7 linked regions of the Homo sapiens genome follow. The protein of the gene in region 2 interacts with the protein of the main gene of each other region in a biochemical or structural test. Each region holds a gene or a part of one and is shown on either strand. Other genes may lie near its edges. The genes, in order: HDAC4, PPARG, NFE2L3, LRIF1, CDC34, HMGA1 and HDAC3.

Region 1 (3,500 bases), on a different chromosome or scaffold from region 2:
GGCACAGACAGAGGACGTGTGGCTCCCACAGCGTGTCCCAGGGGTCCCGGGCTCTGCTCTCGTGTAATCACAGCCCCCCGCCAGCCATTCACAGCCCTGTCACTGGAGCCTCAGCGTCAACGCTGTGGACGTGGGCGAAGTGTGAGGGAGTAAGCGGAGAAGCGTGGGCTCATGATTCCTGAGCCGGACCAGAAGCTGTAGGTTCTCATGGCCCCACGGGCATGGGCTGTGGACTGTTCTTGGAGGAGACCATGGGTCTCTGGGACAGGAAAGTGGGCAAGTGAGCCCGTGACAGGTCCCCAGCATGACAGAACTGAAGGTGTGGGGTGTAGGGCGGGGAGAGGGCCTCTGTGACAGACCTGTGTGGTCCCCACCATCCAGCGTGGCCCTCGTGCCTGCCCAGCCCCTCCTCAGCCTCTGCAGAGCTGGGCCGGGAAGAGCCCCCCGCGCTGTGCCCACTGTGGCCCGCGTTGCACCCTCAGGCTGCACAAAGGCCACGTGTTACCTGTCGTGAACCTCGGCTTGGTGGGGGGCTCCTGCACAGACACGGGGAAGGTGGCAGACGCGGGTGAGGACTGCGCCCGGGACAGAGGCCTGTGGCCGCCGAAGGACACGGGGATGCCGGCGGCCTCCATGGACGCCTGGTAGTTCCTCAGCTGGTGGATCCGCTGCTGCTCCAGCAGGAGGGCTTGCTGCGGGGAAGAAACGGCCGTGTTGGCGGTTGCGGATGTCTCCCGCCCCTGGGCTGCAGGGCTAGGGGTTGCCCTCTCTTGCAAGTCTCCCGTCCACGCACAGGCCATACATGGGCCACAAGGATGCCGGGAGGCCAGCTGCGTGGAGAGGCCTTCCCTGTGAGTGCCCTGAAGCCTGAGTGGGCCCAGAGCCAAGAACGAGGCCAGCACAGGCTCTGCCTCCCAGGACGGTCTCTCTAGGGAAGGCAGGCTGTCCACGTGGGATCCTGCCATGGGTTACGTTAACAGGATAACACAGGTTGAGTCAGGGGGTCCCAGGGAGGCCTGGCCCAGTATGGGGTATCAAGGAGGGCTTCTCTGAGGAGGTGCTGAGCCAGGAGCAGCCTGGAGCAGGTGCAGGGGAGTAGGGCCTGGCAGGTGTGGAGAGAAGCTCTTGCTGGGGCGGCAGCCTGGCCCTCGCTGGTTTCACTGGGGGATATGCGAAGGCCATGTAGATGTGGGGACCACAGCGTCCACTCTGCCATACCACACACATACGGTGAGTGGGCACGAAGCCCAACCCCCTTGTTGGGTTTGTGGGTCTTAGTTCTGACCAACAGCATTGAATCTGCATGCCAAACTTGGGCGAGAAAGCACCATCGGCTCTCAGACTTGAAAGTGCCAACTGGGCTTCATCTGCAGCCGCTCCCCTCCCTGGTCTCACATCCCACACACCCTCGTGCAGGCTAAAAGCAGTAACAGCCCATCAGCTTCTGGGCACCCAGGACCTTTGGGGCCTAGAGCAGGCCTGCTGGTGGGGATGTGCCTCTCTGATGAGATGGAGCTGGGCTGGGCTCTGTGTGTGGGGGGGGCACTCAGCCAGGGGCCTGGGACACCCTGAGGGATTCTGGGAACAGGCTGAGGTGCAAACCCCCATACGAGGCAGAGTGGAGTGGAGGGAGCAGGGCAGAGATGAGGTCACAGCTGCCAAGCCTCTCCCCAGACAGCAGCTGAGGGAGAGCACAGCAACCTGCCACCCAGGCCGAGGCACAAAGAAAGCCGGGCGCCTCCTTGCTGGGAGCTCTGCGCCAATCCTGTCTTAGTTTTGATGAACAAATCCTGTGAACATGGAAAACCAGGTACCTACATCCCAGCTCCTGTATGAAGGCAGAGCCCAGCCCTGTGCTGCCAGCACTGGGGGAAACCAGAGCTACCCGGCCAGGCTCCGATCTGTCCTGCCTTTAGGAATCAGGCTGGGCGTGGTGGCTCATGCCTGTAATCCCAGCACTTGGGGAGGCTGAGGCGGGTGGATCACCTGAGGTAAGGAGTTCGAGACCAGCCTGGCCAAAATGGTGAAACCCCATCTCTCCAAAAAAACAAACAAACAAAACAAACAAACAAACAAAAAATTAGCCAGGCGTGATGGTGGGTGCCTGTAATCCCAGCTACTTGGGAGGCTGAGGCAGAATAATTGCTTGAGCCCAGGAGGCGGAGGCTGTAGTGAGCTGAGATGGCACCACTGCACTCTAGCCTGGGCAACAGAGTGAGACTCTGTCTCACACACACACACACAAAAGGAATCAGAGCCAGGAGGGAGCAGAGAAGAAGGAAGCCCTGAGACAGTGGGAGGAGCTGCAGCAGGAGCTGGAGCAGGAGCCAGCACCCACAGGCCCCCAGTCTGCTGCTGACCAAATTCAGCTGGGATTGCCGTGGGCCCCACGCGGTTAAGTGGTTAATAAGCAATCCTCCCCGACGCGGGCTGGAGGTGCCCCGCCTTATGTTTACCTCGGCAAATTGCTCCGTGTACTACGACGTTTCCCTGATAAGGGGTTCTGCCTATTACTCTCCAGAGAGAACAGAAAATAAGTGTTTCTAATAATCATCTCATGCTTGGAATATAACAAGCCTCTTTTTCTCAAAGTAAAGGCTGATCTATGAGAAACTAGCCCTAAAAATTATTAATGTAAATAGTTTCCCATTTCTTATCAGCCTAATAATAGCACACTGAATTTCAGATCTTCATCAACTTACAAGGCCCGACCACAGGAAGAGGCCCCCACCCTGGGCCTGTCGGACAGGACCTGTGGACGAGTGTTCACCATGAAGCACCGTGTGTGTGCCAGAGAGGCCCGGGGCTTTCTCTCTCTGTCTTTGCCAAGCGTTAGTTCTGCTGGGCTTTGTAGTGTTTAGTGCCCGGGGTGCTAATTAAGAAGGCCCAGAAATTAGAGACAGGCCCCCCTCTGAACAAGAAGGAGAAATAGCACCCAATGCCAGCCACTGGGGGAAGCTCGGTGGAGAAGGGCTCCTGACCCAGAAGCCTCTGGAGACCACTGAGCACTGATCCCGTGTGTGGCAGGCTTGGGTCTAGGTGCTCCAGGTACAAGGCCCCACACTGATTCATTCAGTGGCAAGCATTTAAGAACTGTAGCTGAGAATTAAGGGGAACAGTTTACTGCAGGGCGTCCTGCTCCTGGCTTCCAAGGTGCTGCTGGGGGTGGAGATGCAGCGTCTGGCCACACAGCTGGCAGTCAGGAAGCTGGGGAGGTGCTCAACGGCACGGCCGGCATGGAGTCCAGAGAGAAGGGAGGGAACGAGCCAGTGGCTCCTGCAGCCGAGGCAGCAGCTCTGCTGCTGGAGGATAGAATCAAATCCTACAGAGCTGTGGTTCCTCGGACTGGCTTCCTGCCTACAGGGAGGAAGCCACTTTCCTGAGGGCACTCTAGCTGCAGATACGGGGCTCCAGCTGGCTGCCCAAATGCCTTAGGTATTTCTGCTGACTCAGAAGTTTAATGTTTCAATGGAAATTAACCAGTCATTCACTGGCCTTCT
Region 2 (3,500 bases):
TGCACTCCAACCTGGGCAACAAGAGCGAAACTCCATCTCAAAAAAAAAAAAAAAATTTTTTTTTGAACCTTCTTGAAAACAAACTGTAAAAATACATTATATTGCTTTTAAATAAAATCAGGATGTTTCTAATCAGTTCCAAATTCTTTAGGAAAACATGTAGTAATCCTATATTGCCAAATGCCTGGGTATTTTCTTCACTCTTCTGGATTATACTTGACATATGCAAATGATTTTTGAAGTTTCTACTTCATTTATATTGACATCATTCTTATGTTTGTTCTCCTTTATAAACTTTATCCACCATATAAAACAGAAGAATTTATATAGGTGCTTTTCTAGATGCAGTCAAAAGCTTGTTTACACAGGTAATTATCAACTGACGGAAAGGATAACATTCAGTAAGGAACACTTTGAGATTCTCTGTTTTAGATTCACAGACTTTAGCAAGACTTTGTAAAAAATGCATGACGAGTAAGCAATGTGATTAGTCATGAGGCACGAGGGTAGCCCATACCTAACTGCTAAATACCACCTATTAGCTGATTCACAGAATTATGACCTTGCTTTTGAGGTGGCTACTAAGTTTCTATTTCTAACAGAGATGCACTGGCTTGCCATACTATTTTCAGCAAAAATAAAATTAAGTATGTATAATAATAATTATTATTATTTCGAGACAGAGTTTCACTCTTGTTGCCCAGGCTGGAGTGCAATAGCGTGATCTCGGCTCACTGCAACCTCTGCCTCCCGGGTTCAACCGATTCTCCTGCCTCAGCCACCTGAGTAGCTGGGATTAAAGGCACGTGCCACCATGCCGAGCTAATTTGTATTTTTAGTAGAGGTGGGGTTTCTCCATGTTGGTTAGGTTGGTCTCAAACTCCTGACCTCAGGTGATCCTTCTGCCTCTGTCTCCCAAAGTGCTGGGATTACAGGCGTGAGCCACTGCGACTGGCCGCATGTATGATATTTTATGATCTGTGGATCTGCCAAAGGATTAAGCATTATTTATACTACCTTGGCACATCATTTTCTGAAGTGATTGAAAAGTTCCTCTCATTTCAATCTATTAGGAAGCTACTTTTAAAGCCTGGAAGAGTTGACTCATGAAGAGACCACATAATTTGTCTAACATCACAGAGGAAATACAAGATATAATGAAGTGATAATATTCAGATATTTAATTACATTAAGATAATACTAGCTCATAACTTGAACTGTGATTACATTTCTTAGTTTAATTGATGTTTCAGAATAACTGTTTTGAGGTCAAAAATGGTTCAAGGAAGATCTGCGACTTGTCTTGACTAAGAGAAAAAAAATGATGGGTAAATATATCTTTTCCTATCACTGCTATTCCAAATGGTTATTTTCCTATTTTGTTTCAAAGTTTCTGGCTTATGAGGAAACTGGGACATGCATTAACTTTATTTTTCCCTCTCCTAACCCCCTCTTTCAAACTCCAAATCTGTTTTCTACTCCTTAAAGGCCTTGTTTTCAGGTAGCAAGGAAACAAGCAACTAGCCTTTCACATTTTTGCTGATAGTGGTTTAGTGAACTAACCCTGCCAGGAACTTTGGCATTTTAAAAGTAGACCCAAAGCTTTCAAATTCAAAGACATTTTAAATTTCAATTCAAAGACATTCAAATTCAAAGACATTTTAAGAGGTGTATGACAGCCAGAGGGGTGTGGTCAAGGTTAGGAAGTTCCTTCCGGAACTTCATCATTGCACTCGAACAGTTTGACAGTTATATTTCTCCACTGCCCTCGATATGAAGGAAAATTTATTCCTTAAACATACAGGATGAAAAAGTAACCTCTTTCCATTCCCTTGCCCAAATTATCTCCTTTAGTATAGAGCCAGAAAGAATAACAGTGCTAAGTGGCAAACTGAGATGTCCTACAATGTCACCAAGAAGCAGGGTAAATTCTTAGAAATCAACCTTATATTTTAAGACTATACACAGTAATCATGCAACCTGCTGACTGTGGGAGTTGAGCATATACAGACCTGGTACATTCCTACTCAGGGTATTTCCCTATTTCTCTACCTCCCTCATATCTACCTTCTCCTTACCTGTGGCAAACTGCGAAGGACTTCTCACCCCACGTTTTTGCTAATCTGAACTCTTCTCAGAAGGTCAGATAATCTGACTCAATATGTCATATCCACACATAATCCTCCCAGATGAGTCCACAAATTAAAGTGGTTTTTTTTTAATAGTGACATAGTTAAAACCAAGCAATGAATTTATTTTCTAAAATCAATGAAGTGGAATAAAAATGCTTCCTAAACAGATATTGAATCCAACTGAACTGAACTTACACAATCTAGTTTAAATCCTGACTGGAGGGTTTAAAATCTCCACTTAATGGATTCAATTCCTTTATATCTAAAAAATCGCAGTAGGAAAAAAAATTCATGGCACTGTCCCACAAAAGATTTTCAAGTTGAGAACAGCCTGGCCACTGGAACAGTTGAAGGTATGGCAATGACTCTGAGAAAGCCTACGCTGTAGGATTAAGGCAGTGGAAGATAACACGGCTCCCCACTCCCGGACAGGGACACTCAGCCCACCTACACGCACCAGCATGAGCCTTTCTTTGCCTTCGCCTCTGCATCCTTTTAGTGAAGTCCCTACTTGGGCTTTATAGCTCCACACTGCAGTGGGCAGAGTGGCTTGCCAGTCCAGTGTGCAGTTTGGGGCCCAGAGAAGGTGGGAGAAGTCCTCTCCAACAATCCTCAGCCCCCGGGGCCCACGCACACAAGCCTCTTCACCCCATCACCCCGTGTGCTGTTACCAGTAACTTCCCATCACCAAGACACCGCTTGCAGAGGCCTCCTCTTTGGCATATTCAGTCCAAGTCCCTTACTTTCTTAAGCAGGAGACACTTCACAACAATATGTATCAACAATTCACGCGAAGAATTTAAAATTTATTATTTGGATGGTGCACAGTTAATTATATGTTTTTCCACTTACTCCCTACTAGCAAATAGGTGGGTTATTAGGAGATATCTGAACCTTTCAAGCCACTAAAACACTATTTTTTGGTGAGTGCTTGTTGAAAGAGACCCATTTTTAATGACAAGCACAAGTCACTATTTAGTCTTTTAAGTTGTGACACTAAACTGTCTTCTGATCTGATGGATCCTAGGCCTCATTATAAAACGAACTTGCTCCTGGGGAATATACGTTAAGAATTCACAAGGTGTGCCATAAAGATATGCAAAGACTAGAGCTTTATCAAATCAAAGCGCACAATCTGTGCCTTCTAGATGCATCGGATGTATAATATTAACATAAGAGGGGCTACACAGGACTCGCAAAGCTGGAATAAAAATAATTACTATGCTGATTTTTGTCCAAAGTCATCAGGGAATGGAAAATACAATTTTAAATTGAATGATAATAAAATATTCCCAGAAACAGTTTATAAATTGATCACCACATGAGAAGCATCATCTTCAATCTTAACAATCTCAAAGTTATTGAGGT
Region 3 (2,220 bases), on a different chromosome or scaffold from region 2:
GTCTGTCAGATAATATCTACTTAACATGCTATTGAAAGAATCAACAGGCATGCCGACAATTTCATCTACAGAAAAAGGGATATGCAAAGCTTTAGCACGCTGTTCATCACGGCTCAAGTTTCTATCTGTGTCTTCAAGGTATCTACTCCTTATCTTCTGTGACTTCCCAGGCCACGGAAAAGGTTCAGAAGTAGATTCTGGTGCAGTTGGCTGTAAGTGGTAAGTGTGGTTATGAAATACGTGTTGAAATGTAAGATCTCCATGGAAATCAGAATCACTTTGATCCAAGTGACAAAGCTTACTGGGTTCTGGGTAGTAGCCACCTACAGCACCTTCTAAGTCATGATGGGAACTAGATTCATGGTCAGTGCAATAACCTATAGCACCTTCATCACACACAGAGTGAGAGGAATTAGACTTGATGACAGAGGTATTATTGTGACTTGAATCTAAAGAAAGGCCAGAATCAGAATCTGGTTCATCAAAAAGCTGAGAAACATCGATTGGATCAAAGTTGTCTTCTGTGGCCAATGACATTAAGTTTATCTCATCAAATATATTTATGTCAAGGTCATACAGTAGGTCTTGGCTTGTTAGATTCCTCATATGATTGTCAACCGGTGAAAGAAATCCTGTCAAATTAGTTCCAGGAAGGGTTTGCTCAGGATTGGTGGTATGAGAATTTAACTGCAGAAATGGTTCTTGTGACTGTGAAGTCCTTGCTGTTGGATCTCTTCTAAATGTATTGTTGGGACAAAGCAAGATGGCCTCATGAAGATTCACATCCTGACTTATAGCCTGGCTGAAGTTTACATGATAATGTGCTGAAGAATTCATGCCATCACTGATACTGCCTGGAAGAGGAATATCTCCCAATGAGATGCCCTGAAAAACGAAGGAGAAACACTTCAAACATGAATAGCCCTATTTCTGAAGCAGTTCTATTACCTAACAACTTTCTTTCCCCTCTTTTGTCAATTCCTCTACATTTAATAGAGATAGATGCTGTTGGCAGTAACTTCCTAGTTAAATACAGGCAATACAATACGAGATGTGAGTCCAAATCAGAATACCTGGAATTCTGAGTAACCTAGAAATTAAGATGGATTAGTATAAAAGCTGACTGGATTTTCTTAAAAAGTCTAATGTTACAATCTTGTAATTTGCTACTTTATAATAAGATGCAACTCATCCTAGCGGTTGGTAATCACATTGTGGAGGGTCAGGGATAATAAACTACAGTGAAGTAGTCTGGAGGAGAGAGGCTGTTTAAATGCCTCTAAGCGCTAAAACTACAAGGCTATTGTGAATATTGCTGCAATAAACATGGGGGTGCAGGTGTCCCTTTGATACACTGATTTCCTTTCCTTTGGATAAATACCTGATAATTCTTTTAGTTTTTTGAGAAATCTCCACGCTGTTTTCCATGACTAGTCTAAATTTGATTATACCTTTGGGATTATTTGGAAAGAGGAATGCTATACATATTTGGTTAATTCTAAGCTGAAGTGCTTCTGTAAAAATAAGCATTACTTTAAACTGCTGTGTCATCCAAGTAAAGGAGTTGTATTTGTTCACCAAAAGGTCAGTGCAGATATGTTCCTGCGAGGATAAAAGCCAAAGTTCCAATTACCTCCAGTGAATTTTCAGGCTGTGATGAAAGCAACTGGAATAAGTCTTCCAGAGAGAAAGAAGTATCTGTCCCATTCAGATGTCTCTGTAGAGAAACACAAAAAGTGCATCTTTCACATAAAAGACTGAACTGGTTGGGGCTTTAGGCTTTATCTTTAAAGGATCACCAGGTATTATTTCCACACTGGATTTTTATGCTATTATGTTCCTTGGTTGGAAGTTCTACTTTTTATTATATTTTGAGACGGATCTCACTCTGGCCCAGAATGGAGTGCAGTGGTGCAATCTCGGCTCACTACACCCTCTGCCTCCCAGGTTCAAAGGATTCTCCTGCCTTAGCCTCCGGAGTAGCTGGGATTACAGCTGTGCACCACCACGTCTGGCTAATTTTTGTATTTTTAGTAGAGACAGGGTTTCACCATGTTGGCCAAGTTGGTCTCGAACTTTTGACCGCAAGTGATCCACCCACCTAGGCCTCCCAAAGTGCTGGGATTACAGACGTGAGCCACTGCAGCTGACCTATTTCTCTGATTATGGTACTCAGTATTTCAACATGCATACTTAAAAGTCCAAAGCTAATCAGTATTT
Region 4 (3,500 bases), on a different chromosome or scaffold from region 2:
GACATTATTTAGAAATTGTAGTCTTCTGGAAAAGTCACACATGCCTTTAATCGATCTTGTATTGAACAATCAGAATTTACCTCCTTACATCTCTGGAGTTCAATGAATTCTGTACTGAAGGGGAGAAATGCTGACATTATTGAGTAGACCTCTAAGTAAGCAAGGAAAAGATGGGTACAAATATCTAGTAAGCACACAGACAGACAAACCTTAAGTCGAACATAAAGGTAACTATGTGGGCATGTTGGGTAACTGGCTGAGGAGTCACAAAGAGCTAATAAAAAGGAAAATGAAATTTGTCTACCAAAAAAAAAATCAACCCATCAAAGATGCTGATAAAATCTTATTTCCACAAATTACTGAAAGGTATTGATTAGCCCTGTCTCACCTTTTCCATGGTATACCACCACCACCACCACAAAAAAACCCCACAAAACCCCAAAACCAACTCTTTTACATGCATATTGATCTCCTCATATACTAAAAAGGCTATTATATATGAACATACATATATACATGTATGTATATACATATACTCACATATTTTTACTAAGCTTTGAATTCACATTATCCTTCCCCAACTCTTCTAAACCTTTTTGCTCTGTGAATTTTTTGTTTTAAAGATTTGGCATGCCAAGTGATTCAAGAGAAAGACTGTACTCCTTTGTACAAGATTGTACCCAACTGTACTCCTCCTCAAATTTGCTCAGATGGAAGTTTTGACTTAAATACTCATATGTGTATAGTCTGTGTGTGATGGGGTTGGCAGTGGGGGAAAGAGGTATCATAGATAACTTTGAGAATTAAGAAAACAAACTTTTCTATATAGATATATAAAAAGAGCACCCTGACATGGGAAAATTACCTTTGGTTCTTGGTCTCTGAAAACACACTGTTGTGAAGTAACAGTTGTTGCATCAACAGAGGAACTTATTTTCTCTATGCTCTGGAGGACACTTCCTTTTCTAGCATAAATGACGGCTGTTACTTTTCTGGGGGCATTGTGTCCTGTACTAAATCCAACTGGAAAGATTGGATTTGTGAATAAAGTCTTACTCTGTTTTAAGTAGTTACTGGATTGGTTCATATGTGGATTTGTGGTAGAAGGAGATGGTTTCTCCACTTTATTCTTCTCTGCCCTTAGATTGGCCATGGAAGCAAGCTGGGTATTGGAAAGTGATTTTGTCTCCATCTGGGAAGATTTACTTTTAGCCAAAACAATATTTACAACCTCTCTGGATATTTCTGTGACTGGACTTGAACTCACTGTCTGTAACGTGTCTTTTCTTACTGGAGTATCAGGAGAAACAGAATTCTGTTGGTCAATTTGTGATGGCAGAACATCTGTCCCCTTTTTAGCCAACAGATAGACTTTCCCATTAAACATAACCAAAGCATTATCTTTAATAGGCATATTTTTGGATCGCGTCCCACTAGGATCGATGGTACTCAATGGTGGCATATTTATAGTATTATCTCCCAAATTTTTCCTATCTACAAAAGTTTTTAAAATCTTTGAAGCCACATTATTTGAAGACTTAACAGGAACAAGAGATGGCGTAAAAGGCTGTAGATTATCTTGGAAAATCCATTTCACTGGAGCAGCTTGAGAATGCTGACCACCTTTCAATTGTGTCTCTGTAGCAACATTCTTTGGAATTTGTGTGGTATTTAGTATTACTGGCTTTGCTATTTCTGTAACAGGTTTTGGGTAAATGTTTTGAAAGTTCTTGGTAACTACATTTTTCACTGTATTTACAGGAGATACATAAATAACGGTTGGCATTTGGGAGGCCTCAACCATTCCTGAGGTACTGGTGGTGGCAGTTGCAAGTATCTTTTGCTGCACTGAAGGAGGCAATGATGACGCTGGTACAGATTTCACTTCAGCATGGGCTGGAATCTGTAAATGATGCCCAGAAGGCAAAACTGGAGACTTCACAGTCACTGGAAGACTCTGGGTATTAACTACAATAAAAGATGAGTCTTTTTGTGTTGAGGGAGGAACAGCAAATGTTTGCATGGTGAGTCCATCAATTTTCACACCATGACTCTGAACTTTAGAAACTGATGAAGAAAAATTTCCAGTTCCCACAGAAGTAACTCTACCTTTTTCTGATGTATCTACTGTTCTTGTAAGAAAATAGTTTGAAGAACTGGCTGGCTGAAAAATGGGCAATTGAACTGATGCACTTGTGGAAGAGCTGGAAATCTGAGTCTGAAAAGTAACTTGAACTGGTTTTCCTGTATTCCCTTTCAAAGCATCAGACATGACTGAAGATTGAACTAGTGGTATAAGATTTCCAGAAGACTTAGGAATTGGAAGTAATTGCAGAAGATTTTTTCCATCCGAGCCAATCGTCTGAACTACTTGGTACATGCAGCCTGAAACACTTAAAAGAACATTGAGTAAATAAATACAACATACTACATGGTATATACATTTTATTTAAAAATAAATATTTGTAAATATTTGTAAATATTAAAATAAAGTATATAATTTTCCATTTTGAGTTTTTAAAGTGAAAGACTGCAAAACAAATATTTTGAAGTAGAAGAGATAATGATATAGTCAACTGCTTATATGATTAGGCAATGGGTATGAGATAATAACATTTATTCCTAAGACTAAAAGTAGACATTTCTAAGGTTTTGCCCTATATAAAATTATACTACTAAAGTAAGCTCCTCTTAAAATATTAGCATCCTCCCTTCCCCCTTTCCCTGAATTCCTTCCTCTTGTCCTCCTCCTCTACTCTAACTGAAGATTCTCATTCCCTCTCCCCTTACTCTTATTCCATTTCTCTCTTTTCCCCCTCAATCTGTTCTGTCTTCTTCCTTCAATAACTCACAAGTTCTGCCAGCCATTCTTCTTTTGCCTAAGCTATCTCTCATGGTGTTACCTTAGTTTGCCACATTTTTGTGCTATAGATTTCACTGAACTGTTTACATAGGAATCATTTTCTTCTGATTACTGTTTCAGCACATTTGAGGTTTAGTGCTACATAGTCTCTGGTATAGCAATTATTTATATTAGTCAATTGTCAATCACCTATCAACCCATACATATAATACCACTGCAATTTCAGCTGAATGGTTTTCAATCAATGTGGAACAGACTGGAAATCAATTTTTTTTAACTGAATCAATTCTGACCCCCATGCCTTGAATTATTTCTTAGTATAGACTGTCTAATCTTAAGAAAAATCAATATATACTAATCTCTGTTTGCATAATTAGTTATTTGGAGATTACTTGAATGTAAATACCTTACCTTATTTATATCTAAAACATTTTTCAGCTCCTGGGAAATATTGAGCTTTCATGTCACACATACTATCACTCTACCTAGGTACGCCTCACCCAACTCAACTCTTCACATAGCTCAAGTCTTGGCATAAATGATATTTCTCAAGAGATACATTTTCTGACCACTTTATCCTTGTCTTTCCTTCATAATTAATCCATAACATTATGCTTGTTAGCTTCCTTCATGGTAT
Region 5 (3,500 bases), on a different chromosome or scaffold from region 2:
CCCGAGTGACGTGAGTGGCGGTGGGGCAGCCCCTCTTCTCTGAAGCACGTGAAAACCCAGAACAGACATGGGGAGGGAGAAAAAGCCAAAACGAAACAACCAGAGGAGACGGGGACCAGCACAAAACCTCCGTGAGGTAGTCTGTCGTCTAAGGAGCCACGGGTCCGGCCCTAGTGAGGTAAACTCGGCAAGTTTATTCTGGTGGTGTCAGGACTCCTCCGTGCCAGAGTCATCCTCATCGTCCCCGAAGCAGCTGTCGGCCTCCTCCTCCACCTCGCCGTCCTCGTAGTAGTCGTCGTAGAAGAGGTCTGAGCCCTCGTCGGGCGCCGGCGCCTTGGTCTTCACGCAGTACTCGGCCAGCGTGGTGGGCACCTTCACGCCGTCACGCTCCGCGTCCACCTTGGTCCCCAGGACCTGCTTCCTGGGGGGACAGGGTGGGTGAGGGCGCCACCCACGTGCCTGGACTCGGCCCCTGCCCGGCCCCCCTCCCCCAGGTCCGACGCTCACCCCAACGCTCAGGTTTCTCTTAAAACGGCGTGTGGCGACCACTTAGGACAAAGCCCTGTGCGTGAGGAACTCCAGGGGGAGAAATGACAGAGGAGGGGGCTCGGGAAGGGCAGGAGGTGCGGGTGGGAGGCTGGACGGGCGCAGTGCAGTCACACCCGCCTGCCCCGCCCCGAAGCACAACCCAAGGGACCCATCAGGAGCTGGGAGAAAATAACGATGCCGGCAACAGGGAGGGCCCATGCTGCCCCACTGGGGGGCAAAAGCCTTCCTCAGCGCAGGAGCAAAGGAAGCAGCTGGGAGGGCCCAAGGACAGGAGGCAGGACCATCCCTGGAGACGGGAACCAGCACAGGTGAGATGGGAAACGCAAAAACGGCCTGAGCCTCTCCGTGGCCTCAGCAGGATTCTAAACCCGGGGGCCTGGCCACCCCGGCCTCCGGATTCTAAACCGGGGGGCCTGGCCATCCCAGCCTCTGGATTCTAAACCCGGGGGCCTGGCCATCCCAGCCTCCGGATTCTAAACCCGGGGGCCTGGCCACCCCGGCCTCCGGATTCTAAACGTGGGGGGCCTGGCCACCCCGGCCTCCGGATTCTAAACCCGGGGGGCCTGGCCACCCCGGCCTCCGGATTCTAAACCCGGGGGGCCTGGCCACCCCGGCCTCCGGATTCTAAACCCGGGGGGCCTGGCCACCCCGGCCTCCGGATTCTAAACCCGGGGGGCCTGGCCACCCCGGCCTCCGGATTCTAAACCCGGGGGGCCTGGCCACCCCGGCCTCCGGATTCTAAACCCGGGGGGCCTGGCCACCCCGGCCTCCGGATTCTAAACCCGGGGGGCCTGGCCACCCCGGCCTCCGGATTCTAAACCCGGGGGGCCTGGCCACCCCGGCCTCCGGATTCTAAACCCGGGGGGCCTGGCCACCCCGGCCTCCGGATTCTAAACCCGGGGGGCCTGGCCACCCCGGCCTCCGGATTCTAAACCGGGGGGCCTGGCCACCCCGGCCTCCGGATTCTAAACCCGGGGGGCCTGGCCACCCCGGCCTCCGGATTCTAAACCCGGGGGGCCTGGCCACCCCGGCCTCCGGATTCTAAACCCGGGGGGCCTGGCCACCCCGGCCTCCGGATTCTAAACGTGGGGGGCCTGGCCACCCCGGCCTCCGGATTCTAAACCTGGGGGGCCTGGCCACCCCGGCCTCCGGATTCTAAACGTGGGGGGCCTGGCCACCCCGGCCTCCGGATTCTAAACCTGGGGGCCTGGCCACCCCGGCCTCCGGATTCTAAACCTGGGGGGCCTGGCCATCCCAGCCTCTGGCAGGAAGGGAGGACAAGTTAGCTCAAACTTCCTGGAGGGCACCGTGTACACCCGGCCCTATGAGGGGCTGCACCGCGCACACCAGGACCTACGAGGAACCTGCCCCCGGCTCCACCTCCAGGACACGCGTCAAGAATGTCCCCCCAGGACTGGAAGCAAAGGGGCTTCCGGGGGTGGCACAGCAGGGCCAGGCGGCACGCTGACCCCATTTGACAGAAAACAGGAACGAGGCTGCAGCCGCAGGCAATGGGCTCGAGCCCCTATCACCGACCAGGCACGGCTCTGGGCTCTGGGGCTGGCTGCTACCAGGGTGTGCGGGTCCCACAGTGCCCGCATGGGAGGGCACCAGGGAGCAGACAGACAGCCCCAAGCCCAGCCCACAAGCCCAGTGCTTTTTATGGGGATGCATGACGCGTGGAGGGCAGGCGTCTGGCCTCAGGGACGTCCCTGGGTGGCGGGACCCAGCGGACGCCAAGCTTTGCTTTCCAAGCTCTCCGATGGGCTGGGGGGGTGACTGACAGTGCCCCGGGGACGGCACTGCACGGGTGGCAGCAGTGGGGAGACGCAGGGGAGGGCCAGGGTGGACGGGCTGGGGGGGTGACGGTGCCCCGGGGACGGCACCGCAGAGGTGGCGGCTGTGGGGAGACGCAGGGGAGGGCCAGGGTGGGAACTGACCTGCACCGTGGAGGTGCCGCCGGCACACCGCCAGCATGAGCTGGAGGACGGTCTGGAGGTCCTGTTCAGCAAGACCAACATCCCTGACCAAGCCGGGCTCCACGGCAGCCTGCCCGACACAGCTCAGCGGGACTTGGGCTGCCACGAGGCCAACACGCACACAGATGAAAAAACAGGCAGAAACGGCGACCACAGCAGAGTCCACATGGCACATGTGTGTTGGCCCACAGGGAGTTTTGAGGGATAAAAATAGTGTGGCTTTTATTTCTGTGCTGGGATCTCAAGGAGGTGGTGCCTCAGGGAGGTGGCCGGGAAGAACCGGGCCAAGGAGCCAGCCACCTGGGCCAGGTGACACGACCGGACCGGGGCCACCGAGGACATCTGCACCAGAGGGACGGCCAGGGCAGCTACCCTGTGACCTCCAGAGGCCAGCAGGTGCTTGCAGGCCACTTCCCAGGAGGCCGCACGGGGCCCGCCCACCATGGCTGCTCAGAGCCGAGACCGCCCAGCACCAGGATGCTGCCCCGAGATGACCCCACGACACCAGGTACCAGCGAGTGCAGGATGGAAGGTGCCCTGGATGCTCCTGGGTCCTGGGGCGAGGAAGACACATGCATTATGTGTGCAATATTTTAAAAGTTGTTTTTAAGATTCTGTTTATACAAAATACCAACAAAAATAGGTGAGGCCTCTGTGAGGAAATCTATGCAATATCACTCTGAGAAAAAAAAAAAATGGATAGGAAGGGCCTCTATGTAACAGGAAGAGCAGGAACCATTAAGGCCGTCAACCCGTAAAGAAAGCCTTGTCTTTGTACACAGACACGCACGTGTTTACACATTCATGTGAACACAGGCACCCAAGAGAAGGGGCTGTGGGGCTCAGCTCTGGGGCATGAGGGCGATGGGAGGAGAGGGAGAGCCGTGGGTCACCACACACAGCCACGCAAGCTAAGTGGACTGCAGGTACAGAAGGCGCCGGTAGGCGACTGCACAGCTGTACCCAGAGCTC
Region 6 (3,933 bases), on a different chromosome or scaffold from region 2:
CTGACCGGGGAGGAAGAAGGGGAGCAGAGAAAAACATGAGTCACAGCCGTGTGTCACTGGAGCGCATTTCAATTCCCTGCATCACAGGAGGTGTGGAAGGCCGCCTCGGGGACCGGGCGCGGGAGGTGCGCCCGAGAAGGCCCCGGGCCGGCCTGCAGGGCGCGCCGCTCCGCCTGCGCCCTTTCCTCCCCCACCGCCCTCCCCGCCATCTTCCCCTTTGGCTTCCTTCTCGCTCGGTGCAACAAGTCTTTGTTAAGCCGGGCGCCGGGCGGGCCAGGCGTGGCGGAGATGGCCTGCGTGCTCGGCCCCTGCCCTCAAAGCGCTTCCAGGCGACCTCTGGCCCACCTTTTATTTTTATTTACAGTCCCAACGGAAGGGCCCAGGTCCCCAAGTGGGCCTGCGTATCTCCAGAACACCATCTAAGTCACCTCAAGGTATGAAGCCTCCCTTGGGTGTACCTGCCAACGAGCCAATCGTTGGTTTCGCTGGAAGGCTCCACCTTGATCATGGCTCGCTGGTGGCCATTAATAAAACACTTTGGATTTCACAAGTTTCACGTTTGAATTTCACAAGACTTGTATCTCACCAATCAGCCACACGCGGGTTGACACTGAAAGGCACATGCTGACACCTGTCCGCCCAGGGGAAATCTACCATCTCTCTATTTTAGTTAGGGGGCGGCGTGTAGGCCGCGGAATTCTCTAACGAGCGCGTTTCTCTTCACCCCCTGGGCCCGCGTGGACCCCCGTCCACCCCCACACGCCCTGGGGGGGGGGCCGGGCCCACACGCCCTGGAAGCCCCTAGAGGTGACTCTCCCTGGGACCCCTGTACCAGGGAGGAAGGATACCGCCACCCGTCACCACCCCCCGCCAGAAGCTCCTTCGTGACTCCTCTGCGCGTGCCTTCCCACACCTCCTCCGTCCGGGACTGCGAGGAGTGGGCGGTCGACTCGAGTTCGCAGCCCAGGCCTCCCACACGCCCCTCCCTGCCGTCAGCACCCACCCGCGCGGCAGCGGCGGCGGCGGCTGGCGGGCGGCCGCCCTTTTAAATCCCCGGGCTCATTTGCATGGCCCCGCCCCCTGAGTGACACGGCTGGCGCGGGCGGGCCCGTCCCCCCTGCCCCTGGGTCGCTCTTTTTAAGCTCCCCTGAGCCGGTGCTGCGCTCCTCTAATTGGGACTCCGAGCCGGGGCTATTTCTGGCGCTGGCGCGGCTCCAAGAAGGCGTGAGTTCGCGGCCGCTCCGGTGGCTTCTTTTTTTTATATCTATAATTTAATTAAATTATTTATTTATTGAGGCCGCGCACGGGCCGTGCCCAGCTTCCTGCCCCTCGCCATCCTTCGGGGGAGGGGGAATATTTTTGTCCCCCCGCCTGGCTGTGACACATAAATACCCCGCGGGGGCCTGGGCGGCGAGCACGCGGCGGCGGCGGTCTCTGAGCGCCTCTGCTCTCTCCCGGTTTCAGATCCGCATTTGCTACCAGCGGCGGCCGCGGCGGAGCCAGGCCGGTCCTCAGCGCCCAGCACCGCCGCTCCCGGCAACCCGGAGCGCGCACCGCAGGCCGGCGGCCGAGCTCGCGGTGAGTCGTCCCCGGGGCCCGCGGCGGCGGCGGCGGAGGGGGGCGCCCGCGCCCCCGCCCGCACGTCGCCCCTCCTGCGAGCCGCCCGGGGCTGCAGCGCGCGCCGCCGGCTTTATTCCCAGGCCGGGGCGGCGCGAGCCGGCGGCGGGGGAGGGCCGCGCGGCGCGGGGGCGGGCGGCGGGGCCCGGCGGCGCGGGGAGGACGCCCGCACCCCTTCCCCCGCGCCGCGGGCGCCCTGCGGGGGGCGGGGACCCGGGAAAGGCGCGCGGTGGGGGAGGGGGCGCGCAGCTGCGGCGAGCGCGAGTTGTGCACCCGGCGGAGCCCGGAGGAGCCCGGCGCACCTCGCGCGGCGGCCGCTCCCGCTGGAGCCGGAGCCCGAGCCCGAGCCCGGGCCCGGGTGAGGGGCGGGGAGAGACACGGGCTGCGGCGCGGCAGGAGAGTGGGGGGTCGGGCGCCCCCCGCAGCTCAGGGAAGTTCTGGAAGTGAGGGAGATGGGGAGGAACCCCCAAATTCGGCCCTACGCCCTCTCGGCCTTTCTCTCGCGCCCCCTCCGCAGATGAGGCCGGAGCGCGGGCCTGGGTTTGGGGCTTCACCCCGACCCCACCTCTGGCCTGGCCCGCGCCTCTTCAGCCCCAGGGGCCGGGCCTGCCCTCCGCCCCCACAAACTGGTTTCGCTGCTTTGCTGGGCTCTGTTGGAACTAGTCCCTTTGACTCCCCGTTTCTATTTTATTTTCTTCTGGGGCTTTATTTTGCGGGGAGGGGACGGAGGGAGGGGGCTTTCTTCCTCTCCCCCGCGCCCGCGCGCGCCAGGTTTCCTGCCCCAAGGCGGGCTTGGGTGCCCCCTCTGGCAGGAAGTGGGGCCGGGTGCACCCGCGTGGCGGTGCATGCGGTCGGGGTGCGCTGCTTTCCCGCGCCTGCAGGAGCGGCCTGCGCCCCTCCCCCCGCGCGCCCTGGCCCCGGGTCCCGCCGGCCGGCCTGCAACGGCCGGGCGCAGACACTTGCAGAGTCACCCTCGGGCCGGGTCTGGAGCCTGATGCCTCGGGGGTTTAGCCCTAGCCGCTAGGCGGGTAGGCAAAGTGTCGGGTTGAAAGGGTCTCCGGGAACCTACTTCTTCCTGCTCGCCAACTTGCTGTGTGACCTTAGGCAACTCAAGGCTTCTCTGGGCTACTTTTTTACGGGGGACGGGGAAGAAAACAAGGGAACCCCCAAGATAATTTCCTAGGGCCTTTCCTGCAGAGTCCTTAAGTATTTGAGGAGCACAGTTTGCATGCACAGTGTATGGAGGAGACAGGCTTGAGGCCCAAGCGGGCTTATTACAAAGTGAGGGATTGGGGTTAGGCCCTAAATGTAGTTCCTCCAAGACAGGCCTCTGATGTTCAGAAACAGGTGGAAAAGACGAACGTTTCTTGGCCTCACTGGAAAGGGCCTCGGGCCTTCATTTAGTTCGTGGGGGGTTGGCTGAGGGGATTAAAGGGTCCCCAGCAGCAAGAGGTGGGGGGAGGCACCAGATGGTATGAGAGCTTCCAGGGAGACCCGCCAAGATCTCCAGGCAGGCCGGGCCAGGCTCTCTGGGATTCCGGACTGGCTTCGCCCAACTGGAACCCCCTCGATGAGGGGGCCCCAGGCAGACCTTATATGAGGTCAGCACTCGTTTAGTTGATTAATTTTGATGTTTAGTTTGAAGGGGGACCTGTGGTGTAATATAAGATTCTAATCACTGCCTGTAATTGCAGAGCAGGCCAAGCCACTAATGACGGAGCAGGATAAATCACCAACCACCTTGTTTAAAAGGGTCTCCAAGTCTGAAACATTATAAGATAGAATAATTACCAAAGTCCTGCTGTCTGGAGGGTCTCTTGATGCTTGAAAATGGAGGTCCTGGGCCCTCTAGAAATCACAAGTTTGCAAAAATGTTTTTTTCCTCTCATTGGGGTAAAAACTCTTTTTCTTCTTTTTTTTTTTTCTTTTAAATTAGACATGGGAGTCCCACCGTATTGTCCAGGCTGGTCTCGAACTCCTGACCTCAAGCAGTCCTCCTGCTTTGGCATCCCAAAGTGCTGGGATTACAGGCATGAGTCACCTCACCTGGCCCATAAATCATTTTCAAATGGTCTAGTTCTTATTTTGGTTAGAGTGAAGATTTCTTTCTATTATTTTAAGTTTTTCTAAACTATTACCTAGTTTGATCCTTGAAGCAGTCAGGAGGTAGTTCAGGCAGGTACCTTATAATTACCTTGATCTTACAGATTGAGAGGGGTTCAGAAGTGGAGCCGCTTGTCCCACCCCTTACCATGGCAGGCAGGGATTGGTTACTGGAAAAATGTGTAGCCTAGGCCTCCGGCGTCTCATCCATCT
Region 7 (3,500 bases), on a different chromosome or scaffold from region 2:
TCAGGGAGTTTGTATCCTAGCTGCGGAAAGAAGCAAGCAGCTTCCAGGTACTCAAGTACAATGTAAAAAGGAAATCAGTTGAAAGAAAACATGAGCTCTGTTTTTCTTAGTCTTCTCAGTGTAACAAATTTTAGCATAATGTTCAATAATATTTTTCAGTCACATATTTTAAAGAAAGAACTGTATACCTACATATGTGAAACAGTGATGAGATAACCCACGAAAAGCCTGTAGCACAGTATACAGTATCCGCTCAGCCTTTAATAAATGTCAGCTATAATTATTACCATTGTTATTCTTTATAAAAAGTAAAGGCTTGAAGCCAGACACAAAAGCCTACTTACTGTATGACTCCATTTATGTAACATTCTGGAAAAGGTAAAATACAAGGACAGACATCTTATCAGTAGTTGGCTGGATCTAGGTTGCAGAGAAGTTATTAACTACAAAAGGGTGAGTGACCTTTGTTGGGTAGTGGAAATTTCCTGTACCTTGATACCTTTTTTTTTTTTTTTTTTGTAGAGACAGGGTCTCACTATGTTGCCCAAGCTGGTCTCAAACTCCTGGGCCTAAGTGATCCTCCCGCCTTGGCCTCCCAAATTGTTGGGACTACAGGTGTGAGCCATCGGCGCTGGCCCTATACCTTGATATATTCTATCAAACCTCTCAGAACTCTTACACCTAAAAAAGGTTAATTTTACTGTATGCAAGTTATACCTATATAAACCTGACTTTTTAAAAAGGAAAGGCTTAGGCAATCCCTAGTTTTAGGTCTCAAAAAAAAAAAATAGTGCAGCTGATACATTTGACCATGTGAAAAACAGAACTGTAGGGGTTTTTTGTTTGTTTGTTTTTTGAGATGGGGTCTTGCTCTGTCGCCCAGGCTGGGGTGCAATGGTGCGATCTCGGCTCACTGCAGCCTCCGCCTCCCGGGTTCAAGCAAGAATTGTAGGGTTTTATAGTTTCTCAAAAGGCTTGGAAAGAATTAGTGATTAATACCAGAAAACTAAGCAAATGAAAAAATAATGCAATTGTCAGCTCCAGGAAAAACAAAAAGCTTTAGAAGAAAATAGATTAAATCACACTACACTATTTGGCTTGATAGTAAATGAATCTTTCAGAGTTATAATAATGTAAACACAGAATACTGATTTATTTTTAAATTACTATGAAGCTGAAAGGGGAAAGGAAGCCAATGTGATGGTGTAAGAAGACTAAATGCTCATATCCCATACTAAAAGCTTAACAGATAATGCCTAAAATTGACAGACGAAGAAATAGCAATGAGAGACAATACAGGAGGGGAGTATGATTACAAGCACCGATTCTGGAGCTAGACTACCTAGGTTCTTTAACACCTACTAATGATAGTGAGGTTGTACAAACTGTTTAACCTTTCTGTGCTTAAGTGTCCTCATCGGTAAAAGGAAACAATAATAGACCCTGCTTCATAGGGGTTGTTGAGATTAAATAAGCTAATGGCTGTAAAGCACTTAGAACAGTACCTAGTATATAACAGGTATTACCTAAGGATTACAGATTAGTAATAACAGTCAATTAATATTATTATTTAGAAATCCAAAGGTAAATACCAGAAGACATAGGGGAAAGGAGCTGAAAGTGGCTGTCACTGGGCAGAGGGATTTATGGGTGAAAAGGAGAGGTCTGGAATTTTTTTTTTTTTTTTTTTTTAAGACAGAGTCTCACTCTGTTGCCCAGGCTGGAGTGCAGTGGTGCAATCTCAGGTCACTGCAACCTCCAACTCCCGGGTTCAAGCAATTCTCCTGCCTCAGCCTCCTGGAGTAGCTGGGACTACAGGCACGTGCCACCACACATGACTAATTTTTGTATTTTTAGTAGAGATGGGGTTTCACCATGTTGGCCAGGCTGGTCTTGAACTCCTGACCTTAGGTGGTCCACCCGCCTCGGCCTCCGAAAGTGCTGGGATTACAGGCGTGAGCCACTGCGCCCGGCTTGGGACTACTTTTTTATTTTTTTCATTTAAAGGCCTATAGTACAATTTGGCTACTTATGTTAGAATACTTTGAAACCAATCAGAAATTCATTAAACAGAAGAAAAATTCCTGATTCTCATCGGAAATACAGATAAGCACAACTGTAACTTGTTTGACAGGAAGACTGATGCAGCATAAATAGCCCAGAGATAGTATTCTAATTAGCATTCCCTAATCGCACAAAGAGCATCTACGGGACCCCAGTGTGGCGTAAGGGCTGACCCTGTATTCACAGAGCTAGAAAGTGAGCTCAGAAATAACAGCAGGAATACTAACAAAAAAACAAGAAACCTCCCCAAACAGCATGTGACTGAACACCAAATGAGCAGTGCAGTGTGTGCAAGACAGAGCTCTATGGGCTGGTGTGGTCAAGAAAGGTTTCATGGAGATGGTGTGAAGGCTGAGAAGGCCTTGAAGAGGTTGAATAGAGAACTAAGGGCATTCCAGGAAGGCATCCTGTGCAGCTGAGGTGTAGGGATAAAGTTGGAAAGGTGCCAATGCCAGCCTAATGAGTTGGCCTCTATCCTACAGCCCTGGCTGCTTCTGTCATTAAGATCTTTCAGGAAAACAGATTAGTGGTTTAAAAACCCGGGATCTGGATCATGCCCCCTCCAATGACCAGTTATGTGACTACGGCTAAGTTACCTAGATATTCCCAAACCTCAATTTACTTATATATAACATCAGAAAAAGGTCTATTATAATACATCTAAGGATTGGTATGAGAATTAAGTGGATTTACCAGCAACCCTTGGCATAATACCTAGCAGAGTAAGCACTCAGTAAATGGTAGCTATCATAAGAAATTCTACAGGATCAACAACCTGGTTTCTTCAAGAAATAAATTCAAGGGGGTGACAGAAAAGCTACAAATTAAAAGTCTTAAGAGACATATCAACCAAATGCACTGTATAGACCTTGTTTAGATCTGGATTTAAATTAGCTACAAAATAATTATGAGACAACTGCAGAAATTTGAATATTGATCCCATATTTGATGACATTAAGGAATCACTGTTAACTTTTTAGGTTTGATAATGATACTATGTTTTTTTAAAAGAGTATCATTTAGAGATACATAATAAAATATTTATGGATAAAAGGATATAACATCTAGGATCTGCTTTAAAACAATCTAACATGAGGGAGTATAGATGAAGTAAGAGTGGCCACTTGCTCAGCTGGGTGCGATGGCTCACGTCTGTAATCCCAGCACTTTTGGAGGCTGAGGCTGGTGGATCACCTGAGGTCAGGAGTTCAAAACCAGCCTGACCAACATAGTGAAACCCCATCTCTACTAAACATACAAAAATTAGCCAGGCATGGTGGCAGGCGCCTGTAATCCCAGCTACTCGGGAGTCTGAGGCATGAGAATCGCTTGAACCCAGGAGGCAGAGGTTGCAGTGAGCCAAGACTGCACCACTGCACTCCAGCCTGGGCTACAGAGTGAGACTCTGTCTCAAAAAAAAAAAAAAAAAAAAAAAG

Evidence for each region.
Region 1: the proteins of PPARG (region 2) and HDAC4 form a complex in vitro, tested with the Homo sapiens proteins (2 studies listed by BioGRID).
Region 3: the proteins of PPARG (region 2) and NFE2L3 interact in a test that uses a peptide from one of them, tested with the Homo sapiens proteins (one study listed by BioGRID).
Region 4: the proteins of PPARG (region 2) and LRIF1 form a complex in vitro, tested with the Homo sapiens proteins (one study listed by BioGRID).
Region 5: the proteins of PPARG (region 2) and CDC34 form a complex in vitro, tested with the Homo sapiens proteins (2 studies listed by BioGRID).
Region 6: the proteins of PPARG (region 2) and HMGA1 form a complex in vitro, tested with the Homo sapiens proteins (one study listed by BioGRID).
Region 7: the proteins of PPARG (region 2) and HDAC3 form a complex in vitro, tested with the Homo sapiens proteins (3 studies listed by BioGRID, with this or other methods).

The regions. Positions count from the first base shown.
Region 1 is NC_000002.12:239,111,021-239,114,520, forward strand, and holds part of HDAC4 (histone deacetylase 4), read right to left. Parts: intron 693-3,500; coding exon 506-692; intron 1-505. UniProt on the Homo sapiens protein: Responsible for the deacetylation of lysine residues on the N-terminal part of the core histones (H2A, H2B, H3 and H4).
Region 2 is NC_000003.12:12,292,070-12,295,569, reverse strand, and holds part of PPARG (peroxisome proliferator-activated receptor gamma), read right to left. Parts: intron 1-3,500. UniProt on the Homo sapiens protein: Nuclear receptor that binds peroxisome proliferators such as hypolipidemic drugs and fatty acids.
Region 3 is NC_000007.14:26,183,198-26,185,417, reverse strand, and holds part of NFE2L3 (nuclear factor erythroid 2-related factor 3), read right to left. Parts: intron 1,718-2,220; coding exon 1,634-1,717; intron 886-1,633; coding exon 1-885. UniProt on the Homo sapiens protein: Activates erythroid-specific, globin gene expression.
Region 4 is NC_000001.11:110,950,423-110,953,922, forward strand, and holds part of LRIF1 (ligand-dependent nuclear receptor-interacting factor 1), read right to left. Parts: intron 2,394-3,500; coding exon 866-2,393; intron 1-865. UniProt on the Homo sapiens protein: Together with SMCHD1, involved in chromosome X inactivation in females by promoting the compaction of heterochromatin.
Region 5 is NC_000019.10:538,260-541,759, reverse strand, and holds part of CDC34 (ubiquitin-conjugating enzyme E2 R1), read right to left. Parts: intron 3,083-3,500; coding exon of another isoform or gene 2,770-3,082; exon of another isoform or gene 2,724-2,769; intron 422-2,723; coding exon 208-421; 3' UTR 1-207. UniProt on the Homo sapiens protein: E2 ubiquitin-conjugating enzyme that accepts ubiquitin from an E1 ubiquitin-activating protein, and catalyzes its covalent attachment to other proteins by an E3 ubiquitin-protein ligase complex. In vitro catalyzes 'Lys-48'-linked polyubiquitination.
Region 6 is NC_000006.12:34,235,740-34,239,672, forward strand, and holds the start of HMGA1 (high mobility group protein HMG-I/HMG-Y), read left to right. Parts: upstream 1-1,133; 5' UTR 1,134-1,142; coding exon of another isoform or gene 1,143-1,224; exon of another isoform or gene 1,225-1,464; coding exon of another isoform or gene 1,465-1,578; intron 1,579-1,675; coding exon of another isoform or gene 1,676-2,641; intron 2,642-3,051; exon of another isoform or gene 3,052-3,218; intron 3,219-3,933. Other genes in the region: translation initiation factor IF-2-like, read left to right, coding at 507-517, 836-991, 1,143-1,224, 1,465-1,578, 1,676-2,641. UniProt on the Homo sapiens protein: HMG-I/Y bind preferentially to the minor groove of A+T rich regions in double-stranded DNA. It is suggested that these proteins could function in nucleosome phasing and in the 3'-end processing of mRNA transcripts.
Region 7 is NC_000005.10:141,630,350-141,633,849, forward strand, and holds part of HDAC3 (histone deacetylase 3), read right to left. Parts: intron 1-3,500. UniProt on the Homo sapiens protein: Histone deacetylase that catalyzes the deacetylation of lysine residues on the N-terminal part of the core histones (H2A, H2B, H3 and H4), and some other non-histone substrates.